Regions from separate parts of the Homo sapiens genome. Here region 1 is linked to region 2. Evidence: fine-mapped expression QTL. Tissue or cell type: stomach. Region 2 holds a variant in brackets; the other region holds the start of a gene. All regions are shown on one strand. Distances are from middle to middle.

The links. PIP is the estimated chance that this variant, and not a neighbour inherited with it, causes the effect.
Region 1: SLC49A3 starts here. The variant in region 2 is fine-mapped to the expression of SLC49A3 in stomach (GTEx, PIP above 0.99).

Annotation. Positions count from the first base shown.
Region 1 is chr4:685,005-693,123 of GRCh38, reverse strand. SLC49A3 (solute carrier family 49 member 3) reads left to right here and starts at 3,973. Exons shown (of 10, transcript NM_032219.4): 1 at 3,973-4,131; 2 at 6,434-6,592; 3 at 6,822-7,035; 4 at 7,213-7,289. The coding sequence starts at 3,997. It overlaps LOC124900643 (a long non-coding RNA gene), which reads right to left and starts at 6,439. Exons shown (of 2, transcript XR_007057985.1): 1 at 5,886-6,439; 2 at 5,105-5,652. RefSeq lists enhancers at 1-577, 2,937-2,986, 2,762-3,709, 3,710-4,658, 5,607-6,555 and 1 more and silencers at 3,927-3,986, 4,017-4,186.
Region 2 is chr4:659,555-664,554 of GRCh38, reverse strand. It overlaps PDE6B (phosphodiesterase 6B), which reads right to left. Exons shown (of 22, transcript NM_000283.4): 12 at 3,942-4,088; 13 at 2,314-2,421; 14 at 1,937-2,046; 15 at 1,368-1,455; 16 at 685-785; 17 at 334-441. Among named protein-coding and RNA genes, the nearest start is that of PDE6B-AS1, 6.9 kb to the right of the region's middle. RefSeq lists a silencer at 526-995 and an enhancer at 590-1,182. The variant G/C (reference allele first, on the strand shown) is at 2,463.

The sequences.
Region 1 (8,119 bases), 27 kb before region 2:
AGACGGGTCAAGGAGGCTCCACACAGGAAGTGGGCACCCCGCGGAAGAACCTGTCTGGCAGGCCCGGGGCGGTGGAGGGACCCACAGCAGAGAGGCCATGCGTCCCACGGTTTCTGTTTTTACCCTGGAGCTGTGCCGGGCAGTCCTTCCCCCAGGGCTTCGGGGTGGGCAGACGGCTCCTGCCCTCACATTGCTGAGGTTCTCTGGGAGGAGCAGATAAAAACCACTCAGAGGAGCAGCAGGACAGGCAGGCCGTCTCAGCGCAGCAGGTGAGGTTTCCTCCCTGACAGGCTGGAAAAGGCGGCCTGCCTCCTCCTTCAGCCTTGGCAGAGCAACTGTTTCCAGTGGCTTGATTTTGAACAAGATACTGTTTAGGAAAGACACATTAGCCCGCAATTAACGAATGCTAGTCTGGGATGCTGACAGAAGTCTATGTTGGGTTAAAAGAAGAGAGATAACAGCATTGAAATGCAAATTTAGCCATAACTGTGTATGTTAAGGATTATTTAAATAAGCTTTTGAAGATCCTTTTCTTTTCTCTTTTTTTTTCTTTTGAGACGGCGTCTCGCTCTGTCGCCCAGGCTGGAGTGCAGTGGTGCCATCTCAGGTCACTGCAACCTCCACCTCCCTGGTTCAAGCGATTCTCCTGCCTCAGCCTTCCGAGTAGCTGGGACTACAGGCACCCAAGACCATGCCCAGCTAATTTTTTCTGTATTTTTAGTAGAGACGGGGTTTCACCATGTTGGCCAGGATGGTCTCGAACTCCTGACCTCAGGTAATTTGCCCGCCTTGGCCTCTCAAAGTGCTGGGATGACAGGCGTGAGCTACCAAACCTGACCAGAGATCCTTTTGGAAAGCAAGACGCTGGGTGCCTTTGTCTGGAGGTCACCATGTAAACGTACACAGGCAATTCTGGGCTTGGGGTGAGGATCCCAGGATGGTGCTGTACCCGGATCCAAAACTCGGGCAGCTTAGGTGAGTGTGCCGAAGGTGCTTGTGGAGAAATGTAAACAAAACTGTTTCATTAGATGCAAGAGTGGAAAAAGTCATTGTTTCCAAATAAGTGGACTTATACTATGCGATTTTTTAAAAAATTAAATTTTTTTTTTTTTTGAGACGGAGTCTCGCTCTGTTGCCCAGGCTGGAGTGCAGTGACGCAATCTCGGCTCACTGCAAGCTCTGCCTCCTGGGTTCACACCATTCTCCTGCCTCAGCCTCCCGAGTAGCTGGGACTACAGGTGCCCGCCGCCACGCCCGGCTAATTTTTGTATTTTTAGTAGAGACAGGGTTTCATCATTTTGGCCAGGCTGGTCTCAAACTCCTGACCTCAAGTGATCTGCCTGCCTTGGCCTCCCAAAGTGCTGGGATTACAGGCGTGAGCCACCGTGCCCAGCCCATTTAGAAAGTTTATTTTGCCAAGGTTAAGGACACACCTGTGACATAGCCTCAGGCAGTCCTGATGGCACGTGCTCAAGGTGGTTGGGGCACAGCTTGTTTTTTTTTCCTTGTTTTATTTTTGTTTTTTTTTTGTGACAGAGTCTCCCTCTGTTGCCCAGGTTGGAGTGCAGTGGCACGATCTTAGCTCACTGCAACCTCTGCCTCCCGGGTTTAATCAATTCCCACCTTATATAGCCTCCTGAGTAGCTGGGATTACAGGCATGCACCACCATGCCCAGCTAATCTGTTGCATTTTTAGTGAAGACGGTTTCACCATATTGGCCAGGCTGGTCTTGAACTCCCGACCTCAGGTAATCCACCCACCTCGGCCTCCCAAAGTGCTGGGATTATAGATGTGAGCTACCTCGCCCAGCCATGGTTTGTAATTTTTTTTTTTTTTTTTTGAGACAGAGTCTCACTCTGTTGCCCAGGCTGGAGTGCAGTGGCATGATCTCAGCTCACTGCAACCTCTGCTTCCCGGGTTCGAGATTCTCTTACCTCAGCCTCCCAAATAGCTGGGACTACAGGTGCATGTCACCACACCTGGCTAATTTTTGTATTTTTACTAGAGACTGGGTTTCACCATGTTGGCCAGGCTGGTCTTGAACTCCTGACCTTGTGATCCACCTGCCTTGGCCTCCCAAAGTGCTGGGATTACAGGCGTGAGCCACCGCACCCGGCCCATGGTTTGTAATTTTTAGCATGCAAGTTCTGTAGATGGTTTGCTAAGTTTATACCAAAGTATTTAATTTTCCTTGGAGTAATTATGAATGTCTTTAACTTTGGTTTTCATGTTTCTTGTTGGTATACATCAATGCAAGCGATTGTTGTGTGCTGATCTTGCATTCTGCAATGTTGCTGAGCTCACCTGCTCAACCCAAGAGTTCCGACATGTAGGGAGGAGGAGCCCCTCAACAATGCACGCTCAACAGAGACTGAACAATGGAGGTAGCTACAGTGGCTGCCCCGTTTCATGGTGACACCCCTCGACAATGCACGCTCAACAGAGACTGAACGATGGAGGTAGCTACTGTGGCTGCCCCATTTCATGGTGACAGGCTCAGACACCACCTGTCAGAGGCAGTGCTCCACAATAGTGAGGTCCCTCAACAGGGAAGCCTGCACTGCAACTCCCCCTCTGCCAGGTGGGGTTAGGGGATGTTGAAGGCCCTAGGCCAACATTGGCACTGGACTATGGAGGAAGGTTGTGAGGGGGCTGGGTCCTCAGGGCAGGGCGAGCAAGAGGTGAGGAGAAGGAGAACAGAAGGAACTGGTGGGGGAATGGGGAACAAAGATGAGGGGGGAGGCTAGACGGTGGGGAAGGCAGAGGAGATAAAGAGAGTGAGGACCACAGGGCTCCATCACACGTCTCAGAGAATGGAACCCCCTTGGGGCCCACCCATCTCAGGACACCCCGGGTGAGCTCCATTTTCTCTTTGTTACTGGATGAGACTCTACAAAAAAAAAAAAATCCCAAAGTGGAGAGCTCTATCTGAGACACACACACAATCCCTGCAGAAGACTGCACAGTGAAAGCTGGGGCCTCATCATTAGCCTGTTCAGACTCAGGTGTGGAAAATGGACAGGCCCTGGCAAAGGAGATGAATGTTTAAGACAAAAACCACGAATAATACTGTTCAGGAAACGGGGATGGTTTCAAGGGTCAAGAGAGCCTCCCTGTTTGGGGGAAATCCTGTTTGCACGTCTGACCAGGCCAGCCTCCACCCCACCCCTATACTGGCCTCAGCAACAGGGCCTGGAGCCTCTTGGGTTCCCCCAGGGTGGGCCAGGCACAGTTGTGGGATCAGCAGGTTCTTGCAGAAAAGACTAAGCCGAAACTCCCTCCTCTGCCTTCCAACACACAGGCCTCTCCATCCTAAACAAACAGAAACCTGTGCCTACTCCTCTGAGAGCCGTGTCCTCCATTGTAAAATGCAGGTAACAATCCGGTGCGTGTGTGGCGGACTGCCTACCCCAGGGTGGGGCCCACAGGCCTTTCTGGCCTTCCCTCCAGCCTTGGCCTGCAGCCCCTCGCCCTCCTACCCCATGCCTGCTTCCCGCAGGGGCTGTAGAGGGACTGGTCTGATTTGAGGCTCTGCGCAAAGCCAGCCCAGCCTCTTCTTCCAGGCTGGCCTCTGGCCCCTCCCTGTGGCTGGCTTGAACCTCAGGAACTTGGGGTCCACAGCCCCCTTCAGGAAGTGCAGAGCTTCTGCTGGGCAGAGTGACTTCCAGGCCGCCTTTCCTGCTGAGAAGCACACAGGCTGTGACCGGGGCCCTTCCCGGAAGGGACATTCGGTTTTTGTGGCAGGGACTTCCAGCCTGAGGCCGAAGGAGGAGGGTCCAACTTCACCTTTGCCCGCCCTTCCCCCGCTTTTTTGGGTCTCCTTTAACTGGGACGGGGCGGGACCCTCCTCCGTAGTCCTTGGGGCGGAACTGGCCCCCCGTGGCCCGGCCCGGCCCGGCCCCACCTCCGCCCGCAGGCGGTCCCGGCCCACGCGGGAAGGTCCTTAAGCCCGGGCGGCCGGCGGGACCGGCGGAGACCCGTGGAGGCCGCCGACGATGGCGGGGCCGACGGAGGCCGAGACGGGGTTGGCCGAGCCCCGGGCCCTGTGCGCGCAGCGGGGCCACCGCACCTACGCGCGCCGCTGGGTGTTCCTGCTCGCGATCAGCCTGCTCAACTGCTCCAACGCCACGGTAGGGGCAGGGGCGGGGACAGGTGGCTCCGGGACCCTCAGTCCCTCGGACCAGCCGGGTTTTGTTTTCCTGTGGCCACAGCCCGAGGTGCCAGGTGCTGGCTGGGGGCGGGGGGTGCCTTCTGGAGGTGGCTAGGGATTGCGGGCACTGGGGGCACTGTCTGTCCTGGAGGTGGCTGGGCCCAGGGCACAGAGCAGGGCTGGGTGCCCCGGGGGATCTGCCAGTCACGGAGTCCCAGCCCTTCCCAGCCTTCAGTGGCTCCAGCCTGGGTCCCTCTTCCCCAGCCAGTCACATACAGGTGGCCCTGCGTTGGCCCTCTCTCCTTCCACGCCTCCCAGCCCCAGGACAGCAGGCACACAGCAGAGGCGCGCTTGGAGCCGCCCTCCCCTCCACCTGACTCTGAGTGAGGGGCGGCTCCTGGGCTGGGCTGGGTTCCGTCCTGCCCCCACCCCCTTCAGGTGTTGCACGCTGCAGCCTTTCCCGCCCTGTGTGCCCTCATCAGCCATCCCCCGGAGCCTCAGGAACTGGTCAGGCAGTATCTGGCCAACGTGCAATGAACAGCTAGAGTTGGCAGCAGGACCCACAGCTCAGGGAGGCGCCAGGTCACGGGGATGGTCAGGAAGCTCGGGGGCAGGGGCAGGAGTCACTCTCAGGCCTGGGTCAGGGCTCTTCCAGGTGGACCCCGGGGCCTCTCCCCTCCTCCTTTGCTGGCTGGGTATGGAGGGCCAGCCTCTGGCCGAGACAGGCCCGGGATCTGCTGGATGGGCCCAGGGGCTGCCTGCTGCCCACAATGCTGGCACGAGCCGTAACTCACTGCTGTGGCTTGGCGTCCTGGCCCACCATGTCCAGGCACTGGGGAAGCCATAACTGGCTTTGGGTGGAGTGTCTGAGGGTGCAGGGCTGGTTTCATGGTCCAAGAGTCAGTGGGTGTCGTAGGTGTGGGGCGTTCCTTGGACAGTCAAGGGCCTCCTGCTGCAGTTCTTCACTGTTTTATTAATATCCACGAGTCATCATGGAGCACACAGAAATCTCACCCTGACACCAAGAGTCGTCATGGTCTCTGCCTGGGTCACCACAGTGAGCCGTAAGCACCATGTTCACTCCAGCCAAGTGCCCTTGAGGCTGGAGGTTACTCATCTGCAGCCAGTGACCAGGGATCCCGGGTTCCAACCAGCAGCATGAGGGCCAGGCGGAGCAGAGCTTGGGTCAACACCCACCCCGGAAGGCAGCCCAGTGCTCTGGATGAGACTCAAAGGACCCAAGGGGGCGAGCGCAGGCAGGGTCGAGGCTGGGAGATGAGGAAGGGAGTCAGACAGATCGTCCTCCCACGTTGCCCCGCACGCTTCAGACGCATCTCTTCTCAGTGAGTCAGCTGTGGGCCCCACTCAGGCCCCCGAGGAACCAGGACAGGGCTGAGGCTGGAGCGGCGGGCTCGGCTCCGCAGGGTGGGCTTTCTCTCCCGGGCTCGGCCAGGCAGGCACCAGCTGGGCCTGGGGAGCTCGTTCTGTGCCTGGCCCCGTCCTGCAGAAAAAGGAAGACAGGGCGGCTGTTGCCCAAGCTCCCTGTCCTGTCCCGTGGGCTGAGTCAGACCTTGTCCGGGCGGAGCCTGGGTCTGGCTGCTGTGTCCGAGGGTGTGGCCTGGAGCTCAGTCGACTCATGGAAGTTGACCTTGAGTGACACGGCCTCCTGCCTCCCGGAGTGAGCCCCGGTGACCCGCTCCACTTTGGCCTCCCTCAGGGATGAGCCAGTCTCACCTCTCCTAGGAGGCCTTCCCCTCGGCCGCAGCGTGCACTTGTGCTGTGTGCTGGACGTCCGTGGGGTGAAGAGCTCTAGTACTTGATAATGCCTGTGGCTGGGGAATGGTGCCCGCTCTGGCAACATTCTGCCCAAACACCTGGGCCCTGCAGGAGGGAAGGTCAGGCTGGCCTTGGGTGGGGCTGGCCTGCAGTCCCAGAGGTTCTAGCTGAGACCCCGTCACGCCCACCTTTCCCTGCCTTGGAGCGCCAGGTCTGGTCTGGGCAGGGCTCGTGGTCCTGTGGGCTCTGGCCAGGTCCTTGGCCTCAGTGTCTGCCCCCCAGGCTGGTCCCCGGTCAGGGCATGCTCTCTGACCCTGCGCTGGGTGCCCGCCCTCGGGGGAGGCAGGGTGGCGCTCTCCTTGGGCAGGAAGGCCCCGTGTCCAGCTCGCTGTGTCCCCTCGGCCTCACGGGGCTGCTGGCACTCTGACCCCCTCGGGCTGGCTGGGGCCACAGCAGGTAGGTCCGGGGTCTGTGGCCCTGCGCTGACTCCCGCCTGACCCCTGCAGCTGTGGCTCAGCTTTGCACCTGTGGCTGACGTCATTGCTGAGGACTTGGTCCTGTCCATGGAGCAGATCAACTGGCTGTCACTGGTCTACCTCGTGGTATCCACCCCATTTGGCGTGGCGGCCATCTGGATCCTGGACTCCGTCGGGCTCCGTGCGGCGGTGAGTCAGACCCCACACCATGGCCCGCTCCGGGACAGTGCAGGGGCCCCCGCATTTGGGTAGGAGAGTCAAGGCCTCCCCAGACCGGGGCCCACCAGTCCCAACAGCTGGGGACCCCGGCAGAGCCGTCGAGGTGGCGGCAGTGGGAGGTCCAGGTGCTCGGGGGACGGGGCAGGCACTTGGGCTGGTGGCAGCGTTCCTGACCCGGTCCCCGACCCCCTCCTCGCAGACCATCCTGGGTGCGTGGCTGAACTTTGCCGGGAGTGTGCTACGCATGGTGCCCTGCATGGTTGTTGGGACCCAAAACCCATTTGCCTTCCTCATGGGTGGCCAGAGCCTCTGTGCCCTTGCCCAGAGCCTGGTCATCTTCTCTCCAGCCAAGCTGGCTGCCTTGTGGTTCCCAGAGCACCAGCGAGCCACGGCCAACATGCTCGCCACCATGTGTGAGTTCCGGGGAGGGAGGCCGCCTGCCTGGGCTCACCTCAGGGTCCACACAGACGCTCGGCTCCCCAGGCTCTCTGGCCAGGGTGGAGGAGCTGGGGCCCGGAAGGTTCTGCCTGTGGGCTGGCGATGAAGCCAGGCCACAGCCGAGCTGACACTTTGTGCATCCGCCCACCCAGCGAACCCTCTGGGCGTCCTTGTGGCCAATGTGCTGTCCCCTGTGCTGGTCAAGAAGGGTGAGGACATTCCGTTAATGGTGAGGGGTCATGAGACGCCCGTGCCTGGTCTGTGTGGTGTGTGCGCATGCACGTCTGTGTGTTCCTGATCCCAAGTGTGTCCGTGTTCCTGTGCCCGTGTGTGATTCCCGTCCCCCGCCCCGCCACCCGAGAAGGAGTCTCAGCCTGTCGCTCAGGCTGAATTGCAGTGGCGCGATCTCGGCTCACTGCAACCTCCGCCTACTGGGTTTAAGCAATTCCCCTGCCTCATCTTCCCGAGTAGCTGGGACTACAGGCGTGCGCCACCATGCTTGGCTAATTTTTTTTTTTTTGTATTTTTGGTAGAGTTGGGGTTTCACCATGTTGGCCAGGCTGGTCTCGAACTCCTGACCTCATGATCCGTCTGCCTCGGCTTCCCAAAGTGCTAGGATGACAGGCGTGAGCCACCGCGCCCGGCCAGTGTGTGATGTTTCTATGCCTGCCTGTGTGTATTGAGTGTGTGTGGTGTGTGCGGTGCGTGTCTCTGTTCCTGTGCCCATGTGTATTGTGTGATGTGTGCATATGTGTCTGTGTGTCTGTGCACATGTGTGGTGTGTACCTGTGTGTGCTCGTGCATGTGTATCAGGTGCGGGTGGTGTGTTTGTGCTTGGGGGTATGTACTGAGCGTGAGTCTGTATGCACGTGTGCCTCTGCACCCACCTGTGTCTGTGTGTTGAGCCCTATCATGGGCTGTGCAGCTGGCAGTGAGATGTAAGTCTGGAGCCTGGGGGTGCTGGGCTAACATCAGCCAGGAGGGTGTCACTGGTGAGGGATGCGTTGACAGCCAGGGGTCCCCATGAGCCCCTGGAGCAGGCCCCTCCCAGCCTGGGCC
Region 2 (5,000 bases):
ATTTTCTCACTGGGTCCCTGGGACCAGCCTGGGGAGGGGCTGGTTGTGAATCACCATTTTACAGGTGAAAAAGTGGAAGGTCAAAATGAAGTAAGTTACTGCCAAGGGCTACAGACCAATGCAGGGCCTGTGTGCTCCCCAGCTCTGCACCATCTCCCTGAGAGCTGGGGGGAAATAAGGACGGCGCATTTGTTTCACAGCCCTCGACAAGCTGCCGCGACGGGCTCTTCCTGCTCCAGAGCGTCTGGGGAGGGCTGCAGGGTTAACCAGCTGGTGAGTGGGCCCGGTCCCTGCGAGGGAAGGACCCCTCGTGCCCCCTCCGCCCGCGCTCACATGACGATCTCCTTCCGGGTCGTCTCCAGGGACAGGTACTCCACCCAGCTCTTCTTGTCCTGGTAGTTCTTGGACTCATCCACGATCTTCTGAAACATCGCTCTCTTCCTGAACCCAGGGAACAAGGGAGGTGCAGGTGGGAGCAAGTGTGGAGACCCCGCCCCAAGCGCCCGTCTGCAGGGAGGCGCGGAGCCCGAGCGAGGCCCCATCCGGGGTGCGCGGGGCCGGCGGGCAGGGACGGAATCCGGGGCTGCGTCCCCCGGGCTGTGCCGCCGCTGCGCCCCCGTGTCTGCCGGGGGTCCCAGGCTACCCGCCCGCCCCGCGAGGCGCCCCCTCCCGGAAGGCGCGCACTTGAAGTACAGGGCCAGGTCCGTGGCGATGATGGCGATGTCCATCAGGTGGATCACGTGCTCGTGCTGCCGCCGGTTCAGGTTCTGGTAGATGTTCAGGGTCTGCGGAGGTTATGCCCAGCGCGTCAGGCGCCCTGCGGCCACCTCTCAGGGTGCCCGGGGACCCCGCCCCTTCCGCCTCGGCTGCCTGTGCCTCTCACGCCCCCGCCCTCGGGCCCTCGGTGGGCGGGACCCCTAATCCGCCTGCTGCTCAGGGCCCTCCTCAGGGTGCCCAGCTCTCCACCAGCGGCTCCATCGTCGGCTTGGGACGCAGATGGCCTCAGAGGTCACCACCGGGGAGCGCAGGGAGGGGTCCACTGAGTGTCCAGGTCCTTGGGGGCCGCTCAGGGCTCGGCTGCCCTTCATTCCCCCGCTGGTGGGTCCCGGGCCGCTTCCCCTTCGGCTTCCACCCCACCCCATGAGGGGCCCTTTCCAGTTGTCTTCCCCACAAGCGTTTTCCCAGGGCCTCCGATGCACCTGCCCTCAGCCTCGGCCCTCCGCCTTCTCTGCCGCCCTCCCCCAGTGCTCACACACCCAGTGCTCACCCGCTGCATCAGAACCCTGCTCCGCAGGATACGGCCCTGCCGTCCTGCGGACGCTGCGTCCCCAGCGCCCACAGCAGAAACCGAGGGTGAGTATACCAACCTCCTCCGAGAGCAGGAACTTCCCAAACTCCAGGTGGTGCCGCTCCAAAATCGAGGAGCCGTGGAGCTTAGCCAAGGGGTTCTGGGACCTGTTACACAGGTGGTGGAGGTGAGGCCCGTGGGACCTGCCCTTGGCCCACCCTGCGCTCTGCAGCCCCCCCAGATGGGCCCCACTTTCTTTTTTTTGAGACAGGGTCTGCCTCTGTCACCCACTCTGGAGTGCAGTGGTGCAATCATGGCTCAATACAGCCTTGACCTCCTGGGCTCAAGTGATCCTCCCACCTCAGCCTCCTAAGTAGCTGGGACCACAGGTGTGCGCCACCATACACAGCTTTTTTTTTTTTTTTTTTTTTTAAGTTTTTGTAGAGGAGAGCTCTTGCCATGTTGCCCAGGCTGGTCTCGAACTCCTGGGCTCAAGCAATCCCCTCGCCTTGGCCTCCCACAGTGCTGGAGTACGGGGCCTGGCCGTGGACTCCACTTTCTACATAGCCTGCTATGCGAAGCCTAATTCACGCCAAGGGCGTGGAGTTGATTTAGGGCTAATTCACATGCCCGCCCTGAGGTGCCTACTTCATCTGGTACAGGTTGTTGGTGCCGCGGTGGTCGATGTCATGGCACAGGCCGGCTGTCACCATGGCGAAGGCCTCCAGGTCCGTGTAGTAGCTCTTCAGTTTGCCGGTCTGTAGAGACAGGGCCACCTTGCTCACCGGTCCTGGCTCCAGCAGGGTGGGGAGTGGTGAGGGGTTGGGATGACCTAGGCGTCGGGTTGGAGGTTGGACCTCCGACCACCGCAGGGCTGGGGTGCGCGGTGCACGGTGTCAGAGGGCGTTGCCCTCCTCCATCCTTCTGCCCTGGGAGGACCCCCATCTCATCCCTCGGGGTGCTTGAGTGCTGCCCTTGGTACCAGGAGGGCCTGCACAACCCTGGTGATTCTGGCAGCCACGTACCATGAGCAGCGTGAACATCGTCTGGGCCACGTTGAAGCCGTGGCGCCAGTTGTGGTAGGTGATTCTCCGGTACCCTTTGCTGATGGAGAACAGGAACCGCACCAGGACCTGGGGGAGCCGAGAGGACACAGGGCTCCGGCGGCAAGCGT[G/C]TAAGTCCCGCCAGAGCGGCACCTGTGGCTGACTTCACAGTGGAAGCCCTGCTCCGTGCCATCATCCCCACACCGTCTCCTGGACTTCCCGATCTTCCCCATCCCTGCGTTTCCCACTGGCCTCTGCTGGCCTTCCTGGGTAGGGGCTGCCACATTGGCACCTATGGGGTGGAGCCAGGTAGGGCAGGAGCTGAGAACAGCCCCAGCCTTCAGGGGCCGCCCAGCCTCCATCCGACTGCCTGGCCTCAAGCTGGGAGGAGGACCCCTGGGGATGCAGCATATTTTAAGATGTTGGTTTTAGGCATGGACATTTGAATGAGCAGAATGTGTGGGCTGCAGGCTGGGGTGGGAGAACCGATGTCCGCAGGGCAAGAGAATGCTGGTCTCTCTTGCCCTGCGGACATCGCCAGGAGGCTCTTCCTGCGGCCATTGTGATTTTTAGGGTCAGAAAATTATTTGGAAATATTTTTTATTCTGCAAATATTTTCTATACATTTTTTCTTGAGTGTTTTCCCTTAGTATTTAGTAAAACTTCTTTTGAAAATGCTGGCCTGCTGCACCTGTTCTCAGAGGGGCATGAGAAAAGAGGATTCTCTTCCTAGGGCTGTGGGAAGCCCCTTGAGATGTTGGAAGCAGGGCAGGGCAGGAGAACCCAGGGAGGGCACAGAGCTGTGGACGAGGGCTGGGAAAGCCATCCCGCCTCCCCAGGGGGTCTCCGAGGAGTGCTGCTGTGGCCAAACCAGGGGGGCCACTTTGTGCTTTCTGTTTAGGTGATGGGATGCTTCTATCTCCTCAGCACCCCACACCAAATCCCCTGTTATTGCCAGATGATGTGCCTAATGATCAAATTGCTTGGAACTCCTAATAATAAAACTTTAAATCTATCCATTCACCATCCATCTGCTGTCCACCCATCCATTCACCCATTCATTGACCCATCTATTAATTCATTAATTGACCCACCTACTCATCTATCACTCATCCACCCACTTCTCCATCCATCCACCTATCCATTCACTTATCCAACCATCTAACTACCATTGGCCCACTCACCCATCCATCCATTTATCCAACCATCCAACTACCATTGGCCCACCCACCCATCCATTTATCCAACTATCCAACTACCATTGGCATCCACCCATCCATTCATTTATTCTTCCTTTGTTTCTTTCTGCTTGCCTGTTGGCCTTCCTTCCTTCCTAACCTCCCTCCTTCCTCCCTGCTTTTCACCCATCCAGCCATCCATCAATCCAGCCATCCACCCAGCCATCCAATTATTTGTTTTATGCTTACTTCCCGTGTGCATTTTACCTGTTCTGTGATGAACATGTCGGCCCTCTAAACTTCCTGTGGGATCTGGAACCCCCAATCCCATCCCCCTCACCTTCTGGGGCACCTGAGGCCCTGATCACATCCCCACCCCCATGTCCTGGGCGGCCTCAGGGACCTGACTATGCGCCCTGCGGTGTCTCCCACCTCCTGGGGGATCTGGAACTTTCGGACCACGCCCAGCTCGTAGTACATCTGGATGCCACATTTGACCAGGTCCAGTTCGGTGCACTCCAGGTCAGAGAAGTGGAATTCGTAGATGTCAAATGTGGTGGGCCCTGGCAGCTCCTCCTTCTGTGGGAGGGATTGTGGGCTGAGGGAGGTTGGCCTGCCACAGCCCCCACTTGCTTCTCATCCTTTCTTCTCTCCAGATCCCCTGCCAAGCCTCAGACACCTCAGGCATCTCTGAGGAGATGTGTCATTCCTGGCGCTCCAGCCTGTATCCCAGGCTGCTCACACGCCCCCCTGGCTCAGCCTCACTCTCCCCTCTTGTACCCTGTGGCCCAACAGTGAAGAACTTGCCCAGTTGGGTGGACAGGGTGATGTTGTTGAGACAAGAAAACACAAAGGTGTGCACATGAAAAGAAACACACACACACACGGATACAGACACACGTGACACAGGCACACCTGGATACACGGCCACTCCCATGAATACAAAGGCACCGGTGTGGACACACAGGCACACACATGAGCACCCAGGCACACCCACAGACATGCAGGCACACACGTGCAGACTCACGCATGTAGGCTCACACACACAGCCATGAGGTAACACACACAACAGTGGACTTTCAGACCCACCAGGCACATTCCCATGCTCAGTCCAAGGCCTACTCACAAGGCTCGTGGCCCCGGGAGATTCTGGCTAAATTGCATAGGCAGACACAGGGTGATGGGGACACCACATAATCCCCACATTGATCCAGCAATCGTCTCTAGGAGACACACACAAGCATGTGTCTATATATATCCATGTGCACACACATGCACACACAATACACACCCCCTGTGCACATGTGAGCACACACACATGGGTGCACACACGGGCACACACACACAAACGCCCATGTGCACACACATGCACACACATACTCGTGGGCACACATGTGCACACACATGTGTACACATGTGCACATTCATACAATGCACACACGCACACACATACCCACATGTGCACACACACACCCACATGTGCACACATGT